2 linked regions of the Homo sapiens genome follow. The protein of the gene in region 1 interacts with the protein of each later gene in a biochemical or structural test. Each region holds a gene or a part of one and is shown in the gene's direction. Other genes may lie near its edges.

Evidence for each region. Proteins that work in one complex are often made in the same cells at the same time.
Region 2: the proteins of ESR2 (region 1) and MMS19 form a complex in vitro, tested with the Homo sapiens proteins (one study listed by BioGRID).

Annotation. Positions count from the first base shown.
Region 1 is NC_000014.9:64,284,357-64,291,380, reverse strand, and holds part of ESR2 (estrogen receptor beta), read left to right. Parts: intron 1-7,024.
Region 2 is NC_000010.11:97,460,423-97,467,446, reverse strand, and holds part of MMS19 (MMS19 nucleotide excision repair protein homolog), read left to right. Parts: intron 1-545; coding exon 546-671; intron 672-861; coding exon 862-943; intron 944-1,287; coding exon 1,288-1,388; intron 1,389-1,492; coding exon 1,493-1,642; intron 1,643-3,433; coding exon 3,434-3,589; intron 3,590-4,764; coding exon 4,765-4,864; intron 4,865-5,327; coding exon 5,328-5,430; intron 5,431-5,550; coding exon 5,551-5,619; intron 5,620-5,824; coding exon 5,825-5,951; intron 5,952-6,439; coding exon 6,440-6,540; exon of another isoform or gene 6,541-6,627; intron 6,628-6,695; coding exon 6,696-6,752; intron 6,753-7,024. UniProt on the Homo sapiens protein: Key component of the cytosolic iron-sulfur protein assembly (CIA) complex, a multiprotein complex that mediates the incorporation of iron-sulfur cluster into apoproteins specifically involved in DNA metabolism and genomic integrity.

The DNA of each region.
Region 1 (7,024 bases):
TGGAATTATGACAGGTCTTGAAAATGAAGGGCTTTTAGTGGAGAATCTTTGTGTGGGTGTACTTGAGAGAGGGCAGGAGAGTTAGGGTGACCTAGAAAGATAGATTGCTGGACTTGTATATGTTTCCTCAAAGCCAGACTGCAGCATTTTGTTAGTAAATTGTTGTGTGTTCTACTGTCAAACCCAGGCCTGGAAGGGGAGTTGAGTGCATTCAGCCTAACTTCTGGATTGGCTGTGTCATCTTGAATCCCTTCACTCGGAATTCTCTCTGACCCTGTCCCAAATGAATATTTGAATTTGGTCCAGTTCCTACAGAGCATGGTCTGTGGCTGTTGTTGGTGTTAGGGAAGAGCAGAAACTTGCTGTTGAGAGAGAAGACACTTGAGAAGACTGATGAACTCTCTCCCACCCCTGCCTTCGAGGCTTGGTCCTCCTACCCTATTCAAACCCTTGAAACTCTTTCCTATCCAACTAAATAAGCGCCAATTGGTTACTAGGAGAATTAGCTTTTCCTCATTTTAGAAGGAAACAGGGTTTCCTTATGTACATGTTCTTAAGAATTACATGCAAATCAGTTATTAATGATGAGTTCTCTGGTGATTTTGGAGTGTTTTATCTTCCTAATATTAAATTAATTGAGGGCCTTAATATTTTGTTTTGAAAGAATATATTTAAAAAGGCTGGGTGTGGTGGCTCACGCCTGTAATCTCAGCACTTTGGGAGGCCTAGGTGGCTGGATCACTTGAGGGCAGGAGTTCAAGACCAGCCTGGCCAAATAATGAAACCTTGTCTCTGTTAAGAATACAAAAAATTAGCTGGCCATGGTGGCTCAAGCCTGTAGTCCCAGCTACTCAGGAGGCTGAGGCATGAGAATTGCTTGAACCTGGGAGGCCGAGTTTACAGTGAGCCGCGATCATGCCACTGCATTCCAGCCTGGGCAACAAAGCAAAACTCTATCTCTAAATAAATAAATAAATAAATAAATAAGAATACATTTAAAGATAATAATTGGCCAGGTGTGGTGGTTCATGCCTGTGATCACAGCACTTTGGGAGGCCGAGGTGGGAGGATTGCTTGAGGCAAGGAGTTCAAGATCAATCTGGGCAACACAGTGAGACCCTATCTCTACAAAAATTTAAAAATCAGCTGGGCATGATGGTGCATGCCTTTAGTCCCAGCTACTTGGGGGGCTGAGTTTGGAGGATCCCTTGAGCCCAGGAGATCAAGGCTGCAGTAGGCCATGATCTTGCCACTACACTCTAGCCTGAGTTACAGAGCTAGAGTATAACCCCCACCCCCCAAAAAAGCTAATAATTGTCAAACAGCTACTTATGCACATCAAGGATGCTTGTTGCTTAAGAAATCTTTTTAAATCTTTTCCATGAAATTCCTTCTAGTTGCTGCTTTGTGAGCGTGAATTTTTTACTTCTGCAGGACACACAAATGTGGAGCATTTGAACTGAATGCTTGGGAAAGTGTGATGGGCAGGTGGAAGAAGAATAGGGATGAGGACTTATCCTCTATTCTTATCCTCCTAGACTTATCCTCCTAGTCTGCAAGCTTGAGAATATGGCATCAGGAATATGTGGCATTTTGTCCACACACACAGTGTTGGCAGGCTACCAGCAGCCCAGCTATCTGGACTAGGGGTGATGGATTTCTGTGGACAGAAGTCAAAAAGTAAAATTAGGAGGCAAAAATCTTCAGGGTGGCCATAAAGACATTGTAACTTGTCTGGAAATTCCAACCAACACTAAATGTGTATCCAGTGATATACCAATAGACTGGCTTCATCTTCTTGGATGTGTAATAATACCTTACAGAATGCTTTCTTTTTTTTTTTCTTTTTCTTTTTCTTTATTTTTTTTGAAATGAAGTTTTGCTCTTGTTGCCCAGGCTGGAGTGTAATGGCACAATCTCAGCTCACTGCAACCTCCACCTCCCAGGTTCAAGCGATTGTCCTGCCTCATCCTCCCGAGTAGCTGGGATTACAGGCATGTGCCACCATGCCCGGCTAATTTTGTATTTTTAGTAGAGACGGGGTTTCTCCATGTTGGTTAGGCTGGTCTCAAACTCCCGACCTCAGGTGATCTGCCCACCTTGGCCTCCCAAAGTGCTGGGGTTACAGGCGTGAGCCACTGCGCCCGGCCTCAGAATCCTTTCACAGACATCATCTCATTTCACCCTCAGAGCACCGTGAAAAGGTACAGCACCAAATAGGTACCTGATTCTACTGAAGAAGATGTGGCAGCTCAGGGAGTTTGTGGATTTGTCTAAGATTGCCTGGCTTTCAGGCAGAGCTGGGGCTAGAATGAATGTTCTGCTCTATCCATTGATAGAATATACATAAGAACAGGCTTGATGGTGGCTGACCTTTTTTTTTTTTTTTTTTTTGAGACAGAGTTTTGCTCTTGTCACCTAGGTTGGAGTGCAGTGGCGTGATCTCGGCTCACCGCAACCTCCACCTCCTGGGTTCAAGCGATTCTCCTGCCTCAGCCTTCTGAGTAGCTGGGTTTACAGGCAAGCGCTGCCACACCCGGCTAATTTTGTATTTTTAGTAGAGACTGGGTTTCTCCATGTTGGCCAGGCTGGTCCCGAACTCCTGATTTCAGGTGATCTGCCCACCTTGGCCTCTCAAAGTGCTGGGATTACAGGCATGAGCCACCCGCGCCCGGGTGACTGATTTCTTATTAACTAGATTTACAGGTGCTTTGATAAAAACCAGTCTAGTCTTGGCTGGCACGGTGGCTCATGCCTGTAATCCCAGCACTTTGGGAGCCCAAGGCGGGCGGGTCACGAGGTCAAGAGATCAAGACCATCCTGGCTAACATGGTGAAACCCCGTCTCTACTAAAAAATAGAAAAAATTAGCTGGGCATGGTGGCGGGCACCTGTAGTCCCAGCTACTTGAGAGGCTGAGGCAGGAGAATGGCTGAACCCGGGAGGTGGAGCTTGCAGTGAGCCAAGATTGCACCACTGCACTCCAGCCTGGGCAACAGAGCAAGACTCCATCTCAAAAAAAAAAAAAAAAAAGTGTAGTCTTTTTGGAGTGTTTTTCTGCCATTTCTAGGGCCAAACTTTTTCTTGTCCATGAATCATTGTCAAAATTGGGAATTTTAAATACTACTTTTTTCTTTTAATTCAAAAGCCATAGTATGTTTCCCAGCCAGTACATTAGAACACCATGCACGATCCCATGTGTACAAAAAGCTTTCTGGCTGAATTCAGATGTGACCTGAGAGGGCCAAATACAGGGGTGTGTGCTGGGAGAGAGAGAGAGGTCTCTGGACAGAAAACAAAGCCTGTTCACCACCCAGGATATGGACCAACTATTTTAGGTTATGGTGACTAAAGAAAATTGACATGCAAATAAATGAATAATTCTTAGAATCAGGATGTCTGGGTACTGGTTCTTTGGTTGGCCAGGTGAAATTCCATGCCAGGCCCAACAATTAAACTCTTTAGAGACAATTTTTTCCTGTTGTACCAGAACATTGTACTGAGGCCATGTTTGAACATTCAATCGATGTGTTGGGAAAACTCTGCCCTACAATGTTAAAGAAATTAAATCTTTTGGGGAGTCTTTCCTTTGACCAGTTTATATCTCTGTTTTAGAGGAGGGCTTCTCAACCAGAATGGGTTTGTTGACTTATTTTTACAGACCTCTGGTAGAAAGGAGGTCTTTTTTTGCTACCTGTTCTCCTGTCTCAGAGAACTATTACAATGGTGTAAGTTCATCATTTCTTCCCCTTATTATGGCTCTGCTTAGGAAGAAAAACTCTTTGCATTGGCTACCAAGTACCTAACTATTCAAGATGCCACTGACAAAGAGTTAATCTGTGAATCATGTGAATCTGATATATCTGAAATATATCCAAACAAAAAGCACCTAGCCTTTTAATGACTCTCCAGAAGTCAGTTCTCTAACTTTAATTATCATCCTTCTGGGGATATGTGGAAATTCTACAGAAGTTGATTGGTGATATGTTGAGATGTGAGATCTGTATTTTCTAAGCAAAGTTGCCATGCACCTGATTGATTGGCTAGGTGTATCCTGGCATTTGTCATTTGTTGGTGGGGTCTGATAGTTGGTTTCACCACTGCTGGGTACCCAGAGTCATCACATCCATAGAGACAGAATGTAGGCTGGTGGTTGCCAGGGGCTGGGGGAAGGGAGGAGTGGGGAATTTGTTTAACAGAGAGTTTTAGTTTTGCAAGATGAAATGAGTTCTAGAGATTGGTTGCACAATAATGTGAATATCCTTAACACTACTGAACTTTATACTTAGAAATGGCTAAGATGGTAAGTTTTATGTTACATGTATTTTAACACAATTAAAAAAGAAAAAAAAAAAAACAACTTCAGGCCAGGCACGGTGACTCACACCTGTAATCCCAGCACTTTGGGAGGCTAAGGCGGGCAGATCACTTGAGGTCAGGAGTTCAAGACCAGCCTGGCCAACATGGTGAAACCCCATCTCTACTAAAAATACAAAAATTAGCCTGGCCTAATTGTGCATGCTTATAATCCCAGCTAATTGTGAGGCTGAGGCAGGGGAATCGCCTCAAACCCTGGAGGTGGAGGTTGCAATGAGCCGAGATCACACCACTGCACTCTCCAGCCTGGGTGACAGAGTGAGATTTCATTTCAAAACAAAAAACCACTTTAGAAACTGCTAGTTTTGGCAATAGTTATCACTATATGTTTTATCCTGCATATTTTCTGTTAAGAATAAGGAATTGTTTATGTTGATCAGGAATCTAAGTAATTAAAATACAAAATTCTGGCTGGTGGCTCTCGCTTGTAATCCCAGCACTTTGGGAGGCCAAGGCGGGTGGATCATTTGAGGTCGGAAGTTCAAGACCAGGCTGGTCAACATGGTGAAACCCCATCTCTACTAAAAGTACAAAAAATTAGCTGGGCATGGTGGTAGGCACCTGTAATCCCAGCTACTAGGGAGGCTGAGGCAGGAGAAGCACTTGAAGTCAAGAGGCGGAGGTTGCAGTGAGCCAAGATTGTACCACTGCACTCCAGCCTGGGTGACACAGCGAAACTCCATGTAAAAAAAAAATGAAATATAAAATTCCATACTCATTATTAATTACATATAGTATTAAAATAAAACCCAAACACCAAACCTTCCTTGATCCTATATCCTTCTCCAGCTACCATTCTCTCTCCTCTCCTTGGTCCAAATTTTTGATTTACAATGTTGGTTGGAAGTGGTACCACTTTGGTGTTAGTTCCTTATCATTTTACCTGGTCTGTCCTGCCTCTTCCTGGTACATTAGCTCCCTGAAGGCAGGGTGTATGTCCCAGAACTCCTTGAAGTCCCTTTTCTCAGCATACTACCATGCCTACTGCAGCACCCCCCATCTTTAATGTCCTTGACTTGGTGAAATATTACATTTTGAACACATTTCCTCACTTCCTTATGACAAATATTGATTGAGTTTCAGTGCAAGGTGAGTAAGAAATGGTACTTGCTTTCAAGGAGCTAAAAATCTGAATTTCCTTTTTTTTTTCTTTTTCTTTTTCTTTTTTTTTTTTTTTTGAGACAGAGTCTCACTCTGTCACCTGGGCTGGAGTGCAGTGGCACGATCTCAGCTTAATGCAGCCTCCGCCTCCCAGATTCAGTGATTCTCATGTCTTAGCCTCTCGAGTAGCTGGGACTACAGGCATGCACCACCACGCCTGGCTAACTTTTGTATTTTTAGTGAAGATGGTGTTTCACCATCTTGGCCAGGCTGGCCTCAAACTCTTGACCTCATGTGATCCACCCACCTCGGCCTCCCAAAGTGCTGAGATTACAGGCATTGACTTTACTTCTTACTCTCCTATGCACCTCTATCATTTTGAAGAAGGGTTCAAGGTAGTTCTGATAAGCAGGATTAGGTTTGTATGTAAGTGATTAAAGGGGTGCTATGAGCAAAAAAAGTGTGAAGGTATAACAAGCCAACCACCTCACAATGCAGTTTGCATGTTTCTTAATGGACATAGCAGGTTTTCTGTAAGAAAACAGCAGGAGATTCGTGTGGAATGATGGGTTGAGGCAACATAGTGGCATCCCTTGAATGCTCGAAGAATGTGACTTAGAGTTTGGTGGGAAGCAGAGAGCTGGGTTTTAAGAACATGAATCTGACAACTCTATGGATCTGGAGGAGAAGCTAACTGGGGACGAGGAGCAGTAAGAAGCCTGTTACAGATGCACTGATAAGAAGTAATGAGAGCTGGCCGGGCACAGTGGCTCACGCCTGTAATCCCAGCACTTTGGGAGGCCGAGGCGGGCAAATCACAAGGTCAGGATTTCAAGACGAGCCTGGCCAACATGGTGAAACGCCGTCTCTACTAAAAATACAAAAAGTTAGCTGGGCGTGGTGGCGGGCGCCTATAATCCCAGCTACTCGGGATGCTGAGGCAGAAGAATCGCTTGAACCTGGAAGGTGGAGGTTGCAGTGAGCCGAGATTGCGCCACTGCACTCCAGCCTGGGTGACAGTGCGAGACTCCGTCTCAAAAAAAAAAAAAAAAAGTAATGCGATAATGAGAGCTTACTTCAAGATGGCAGCAAAAGACAGTGGAAAAAAGGCATTGGGAAAAAAAGCCAATGTGCCTTGATGAGTAAAGTTAACTGAGTCAAGGGGAGAAGTCAAAGGTAACTATGATGGGCTTTTTCTATTAACACAAATAGGAAATGAGTGGTTTTGGGAAAGAAAGTGATGAATTACCCCTCAGATATTGTATTAATTGTCTATTACTGTGGCCGGGCATGGTAGCTCATGCCTGTAATCCCAGCACTTTGGGAGGCCGAAACAGGCAGATCACTTGAGGTCAGGAGTTCGAGACCAGCCTGGCCAACACGGTGAAACCCTGTCTCTACTAAAAATACAAAAATTAGTGTGGTGGTGTATGCCTGTAATCCCAGCTACTCAGGAGGCTGAGACATGATAATTGCTTGAACCTGGGAGGCAGAGATTGCAGTGAGCTGATATGGCGCCATTGCACTCCAGCCTAGGCAACAAGAGT
Region 2 (7,024 bases), on another chromosome or scaffold:
GATAGCAGGGCAAAGAGTGCTGTGGAAAAGTAGTCTAGAACAGTGGTCCTATTCTGAGGTTGTAGCACAAGAGAACACTTAACAGATGAGATGGATGAGATCTGTTTATTTTTCTCAGTGTGCTTTCTGGATACCCAATGGATTAAGCTCTTTAAATCTGCCCCAGGAGGCGGGGCATGGTGGCTCACACCTATAATCCCAGCACTTTGGTAGGCTAAGGCAGGCGGAAAACTTGAGGTTAGGAGTTCGAGACCAGCCTGGCCAATATGGTGAAACCCTGTCTCTACTAAAAATACAAAAATTAGCCAGGCCTGTTGGCACATGCCTGTAATTCCAGCTACTCGGGAGGCTGAGGCAGGAGAATGGCTTGAACCTGGGAGGCAGAGGCTGCAGTGATCCGAGATTACGCCACTGCACTCCAGCCTGGGCAACAGAGGCCTTGTCTCAAAAAAAAAATCTACCCCAGGTTGGCTGTGTATCACAGCTTAGTCAGGGATATGGAATGCAGTGGCTTCCTTCTAACCTGGCCTCTGTCTCTTCCCTAGATCAAAGGCCTCTGAATGGCTTCAAGGACCAGCTGTGCTCACTGGTATTCATGGCTCTAACAGACCCCAGCACCCAGCTTCAGCTTGTTGGCATCCGTACACTGACAGTCTTGGGTGCCCAGCCAGGTACATCTTAAGGGAAAGAGAAGAGGAAAATATTGGTCCTTTTCTTGTAAGACTGCCTTGGTGAAAAGCAGCCTTACTATCCTCTTCTTACTGCAACTCTGGATGATTTGGGATTTCTAATAAGAGCTTAGAAGGGTTGTGATGGCTGCAGGGGAAGAAAGATGAGATTCATGTTCCCTTCTAACTACAGATCTCCTATCTTATGAGGACTTGGAGCTGGCAGTGGGTCACCTGTACAGACTGAGCTTCCTGAAGGAGGATTCCCAGAGTTGGTGAGAATTTAAAGCAATGAGATAGAGCAAGCTGTTCCCTGCCTCTGTATTGGCAGCAAAAGATCAAGCTAGGACCAGGGCTCTGTGCTTCTGACCCTTGGCTCTCCTTAGGGGAGGTGAGCTCTGTGTTAGACTCTGGCTGCTAACCAGTTGGAGAGATGTAGGACTGCTCTCTTCTTAGGCTTTAAGAAGCCCTGTCCAACTCAGTGGTGTAGGTACTTGAGTTCTGCTCTTTAGCAAGGAGGCGTTGGGAGCTCACACTCCTGAATCTGCCTAATATCAGACGTAGGCAAGAGAGCTGTGAGCCCAGGCTCAGCCAATGCTTATCTGCTCTGCGCCTCCAGCAGGGTGGCAGCACTGGAAGCATCAGGAACCCTGGCTGCTCTCTACCCTGTGGCCTTCAGCAGCCACCTCGTACCCAAGCTCGCTGAGGAGCTGCGTGTAGGTATGTGTCTCTAATCCTCTGTGGCCCATCCCTTTCCAGCAAGGCTTTGGGGCCTTCGTGCTTCCTATCACACAGTAAACCTTTGTCTCATGGGTTGCTTTCAGGGGAGTCAAATTTGACTAACGGAGATGAGCCCACCCAATGCTCCCGGCATCTGTGCTGTCTGCAAGCCTTGTCAGCTGTATCAACACATCCCAGCATCGTCAAGGAGACACTGCCTCTGCTGCTGCAGCATCTCTGGCAAGTGAACAGAGGTAACTACTAGGAATAACCACCAACGGACTGGGCTGAATAGGGAGCTGTAGTCTCTAAGGCAGTGGTTCTAGCTGTAGCTATACATAAGAGTAACAGAATCAACTCTTTTAAAAGAAAAAAAAAATACTGATGCCTGCGTCCAACTGAATCAGTCTCTGAGGAGGGATGGGACTTAGGCAACAGTACTATTAAGAGTACCCGGCCAGGGCCGCTGCTCTTGCCTGTAATCTCAGCACTTTGGGAGGCCGAGGCCAGCAGATCACTTGAGGTCAGGAATTTGAGACCAACTTAGCCAACATGGAGAAACCCAGTCTCTACTAAAAATACAAAAAATTAGCTGGGCATGGTGGCATGCGCCTGTAATCCCAGCTACTGGGGAGGCTGAGGCAGGAGAATCTCTTGAACCCACAAGGCGGAGGTTGCAGCGAGCTGAGATTGCGCCACTGTACTCCAGCCTGGCCAGCCTGGGCAATAGAGTGAAACTCTATCTCAAAAGAAAAAAAGGGTTGGGCGCAGTGGCACATGCCTATAATCCCAGCACTTTGGGAGGCTGAGGCGGGTGGATCACAAGGTCAGGAGTTTGAGACCAGCCTGACCAACATGGTGCAATCCCGTCTCTACTAAAAATTATCTGGTCATGGTGGCAGGCGCCTGTAATCCCAGCTACTCAGGAGGCTGAGGCAGGATAATCGTTTGAACCTGGGAGGCGGAGGTTGCAGTGAGCCAAGATCATGCCATTGCACTCACACCTGGGCAAACAGGGTGAAACTCCATCTCAAAAAAGAAAAAAAAAAGTGCCGGGCTGGGTGTGGTGGCTCATGCCTGTAATCCCAGCACTTTGGGAGGCCAAGGCTGATGGATCACTTGAGCTCAAGAGTTTGAGACCTAACCAGCCGATGCAACATGGCGAAACCGCATCTCTACAAAAAATACAAAAATTAGCCAGGAGCAGTGGCATGCACCTGTAGTCCCAGCTACTTGGGAGGCTAAGGCAGGAGAATCACTTTGAGCCCGGGAGGCAGAGGTTGGAGCAAGCCGAGATCGCTCCATTGCACTCCAGCCTGACCTGGGCAACAGGAGTGAAGCCCTGTCTCCAAAAAAAAAAAAAAAAATTACCTAGGTAATTTTCATGTGGGATCTGAATTGAGAGGCATCACCCTAAGGCCGTGGTGCTCAAAAGATGGTCTGTTAACCAGCAGCATGGGTGACATCTGGGAGCTTGTTAGAAGTGCAGAATCTCAGGCCCTCACTGATCAGAATCTGCATTTTGACAGTGTACCCTGGTAACTCGTAGACTGTTGAGTTTGAGAAGCACTGCTCCAATGCAAAAGTGACAGCAGCCTGCCCTGTGGGTAGATTCAGGCCCACTGTGGTTGATCCAGCAGCTGTTACATAGTAGAATGAATACTAGACTTGGATTATAACTTGGGCTTGATTCCTGACTTTGCACTTCCTGTGACCCTGGAAAAGCCACTGATCATGTATTTCATTGTGCCTCCATGTCCTTCTCTATAGAGTGAGGGAAATGATACTTCTAAGGTTGTTATGAAAAATAAGGAGAGAATATATACAAGTGCTTCTGCTGCAGAGCCTGGGACAGAGCAAGTCTCAACTATGAAGTCTGAATAGATCAGAAAGAACAGCCAGGAGAATAAAGTGACTCAGCTTTTTAATAAGGCACTCTTGGTCCCTTCAGTCACTCTTCTTTGTTCCTCTCATCTGCTGTGTAATTGGAAACACCTGAAAGTGCTTTTAAGCAAACCTTACAGAGAACACTTTCTCATCAACAGGGAATATGGTTGCACAATCCAGTGACGTTATTGCTGTCTGTCAGAGCCTCAGACAGATGGCAGAAAAATGTCAGCAGGACCCTGAGAGTTGCTGGTATTTCCACCAGACAGCTATACCTTGCCTGCTTGCCTTGGCTGTGCAGGCCTCTATGCCAGGTAACTTTCCACCTCTCCTTCCTGGCCTTTGGGAACTTTGCCCTCTGCTGGTGTTGAACAGCACCACCCTCTGGGTATTGGTGGTACTGTATTTTGTACCATCAGAGGTTTATTTTCAATCCTTTGTCCTCAGAGTGAGATTTCACTTCATAGCAAAGGGTGCCACCCTGACCAGTGGCAGGAACCAAAATCCACTAGTGTTAGCAACATTCAAAAGAATGCACACCTTTTCCCCATGAAGTGCTATGTGATTAGTTTACTTAGAATTGGACTCTGGAGTCAAGCCCACCTGGTTGGGTTTTATCCTCAACTCTACCACTTGCTAACTTAGGTGAAGATATTCAGCCTTTCCACGCTTCAATTTCCTCACTTGTAAGATGGAGATAAAGAGTACCGTCTAGGCTGGCGCCATGGTTCACACCTGTAATCCCAGCACTTCAGGAGGCCAAGATGGGAGGATCACTTGAGTCCAGGAGTTTGAGACCAGCCTGGGCAACACAGGGGACCCTGTTTCTACAAATAGTCAGACATAGTGGTGCACACCTATAGTCCCAGCTGCTCAAGAGGCTGAGGTGGGAGGATCACCTGAGCCCAGGAGTTCAAGGCTGCAGTGAGGCATGATTGTGCCTCTGCACTCGAGCCTGGGTGACAGAGCGAGATCCTGTTCCTGTCTCAAAAAAAAAAAAAAAAAAAACTGTTTCACAGGGTAGTTGGTAAGGATTAAATAAGTTAGTGTATAGTACCTGCCACATAGGAAGTACTCAGTGTATGATAGTTGCTATAAATAATAAGGACCCATGAAGATAAATCTATGTTTTTAATTTTTTCAGAGACCAACATTACTATTTTTTTTTCCTTGCATCTCCAGGGACACCAGGGACAACATTTCTATTTCTTATGTTAAGAATGTTCATCTTAGCTATCCCTCTTTCCCACTGTTGGCCTAGTCTAAAGACTGTGCAGAGTTCTCAGGAGCGCTCTGTGGCCCCAGGTCAGACCACTCCTGTTTCTGGTGCCCTGATTCTCAGGACTATAGCACTACCAGAGACCAGATTAAGAACTGCTGTCGTGGCTAGAGTCAAGCCCCAGAGTCAGTGATGCTGACAGAACCCAATCATTCATTTCTTGAACCCGTCATGGTCTTGTGATTGTGTGCATGTGTGTGTGTTTTGCAGAGAAGGAGCCCTCAGTTCTGAGAAAAGTACTATTGGAGGATGAGGTGTTGGCTGCCATGGTGTCTGTCATTGGCACTGCTACAACCCACCTGAGCCCTGAGTAAGTATAATCATGGATGTGGCTTGAACCCAGGGAGAAGGATAGCATTCTTAGGAAGAAGCAACAGGTAGCTGCCTTGTCAGCTGTCCTTTTACCTATATGTAAATGTGGTGCAGTTAATCGTCTTGTAAGTTTTGTTGACAAAACAAAAGGAAGGGGCTCTTAGCACCATGGACTATGAGGGTGGGAAGCCAGGGCCAGTGGTTCTTAGCCGCAGATGTGCTTAAGAATTACCTGTAGAGCATTTTAAAATATACCTTGACTTCCCAGATGGGAACCTGAATGGAAATGATTACTGGCACATATGTGCCAAATTAATATTTGTTCAATGCATGAATGATCAGGGCATGTCCCATTGACGTGGTGATCCTAATTCAAACCCTAGGTTGAAAAGCACGTCTGTGGAGGAGAGGGCTGCTTTAGAATCCTAGCTCCTTGGTCATACCTAGTACTCTGCCCCCAGGTTAGCTGCCCAGAGTGTGACACACATTGTGCCCCTCTTCTTGGATGGCAACGTGTCCTTTCTGCCTGAAAACAGCTTCCCGAGCAGATTCCAGCCATTCCAGGTAACAGTCTTAGAACTTACATCCTTCAAGCTGGTTTTTTTTTAGGGCTAATCTGGAATGGGTAGAGGGGCAGACAAGCTTATTGCTGGCAGGCTTGATCGGGCTCTCCTTCCTTTATAGGATGGCTCCTCAGGGCAGAGGCGGCTGATTGCACTGCTTATGGCCTTTGTCTGCTCCCTGCCTCGAAATGTAAGTGAGCACATTTGGGAAGTACTGTTATTTAACCTTGACAAGGTGACTCCGGGCTGAAATTTGCCACAGGCTAAGCTGATCTTTTACTTCCCCCACCAGAGAAGTTAGTTCTCATCCGTCCCGGTCCCTGCTGCCACTATGTACTGGTTCTCTTGGAGTTCAAGTGTTCTCTGGGTCCATTACATGGCCAGGTTTTCTGTAGGTGGAAATCCCTCAGCTGAACCAACTCATGCGGGAGCTTTTGGAACTGAGCTGCTGCCACAGCTGCCCCTTTTCTTCCACCGCTGCTGCCAAGTGCTTTGCAGGACTCCTCAACAAGCACCCTGCAGGTACTGAGATCAGACTATGTAAGGAGCCTCCCAGAATCAACTACCCATGAAATCTTATAGCTCAGTACTCATTCTCTTTTTAAAAGGAGCTTGCTAATAACATTAACAGGGCTTCAACTGCTCAAGCACTGTCCTGGGACTGCCCGTGGGAAAAGCGTCAAGACCACAGTTGGGCAGAGCTTTATAGTACCTAAGAAGAGAAGGGAGCACAAAGAGTCTAGTTCTGCCGTCCTACTCCCTACAGTGGGGCTAGTGTGGATAATTCTTTATTGGAAGTAGATGACCCTCTCTTTTCAAATGGCAGCACCTCTGTATTATGAGAATACCAGGCTCTTATGCAGGTGTCCAATCATTTTGTCCACAGGCAAAAATGATATTTTCCCTTTCTAACAGCTTCTCAGGGAGCTCTGCACTTAAAGTGATTTGCATTTCATTGCTAAAGGGAAAATGTGTAGCCTTTATGTCAGCATTTCCTCTCTCCTTTTTAGGGCAGCAGCTGGATGAATTCCTACAGCTAGCTGTGGACAAAGTGGAGGCTGGCCTGGGCTCTGGGCCCTGTCGTAGTCAGGCCTTCACTCTTCTTCTCTGGGTAAGGAGTTGGAGTGGAGTCTGGTTAGCCAGAGAGGCAATTATGTCTGGTTAAATAAAATGTCCCTGTTTGACCCTAAACCATAAACATCTATGTCTCAGGGTTCTCGGGTTTGAGTGTCATTCCCCAATTGCTCTCTCTGTCTCCAATTACAGGTAACAAAGGCCCTAGTGCTCAGATACCATCCTCTCAGCTCCTGCCTTACAGCCCGGGTACGTCCTTTCTGGAGACAGAAGAACCCAGGACCTAAACAAACTTTCTGGTTGCTCCTATTCCTCCCAAGGACTTCCATCCTCCCCTGTGTGTTTTTTGTTTTCTTTTCTTTTTTCTTTTTGGAGACAGGGTCTTACTCTGTCACCCAGGCTGGAGTACAGTAGTGCAATCACAGCTCACTCCAGCCTCAACCTCCGTAGGCTCAAGTGATCCTCCCACTTCAGCCTCGCAAGTAGCTGGGACTACAGGGGCACCCCACCACACCCAACTA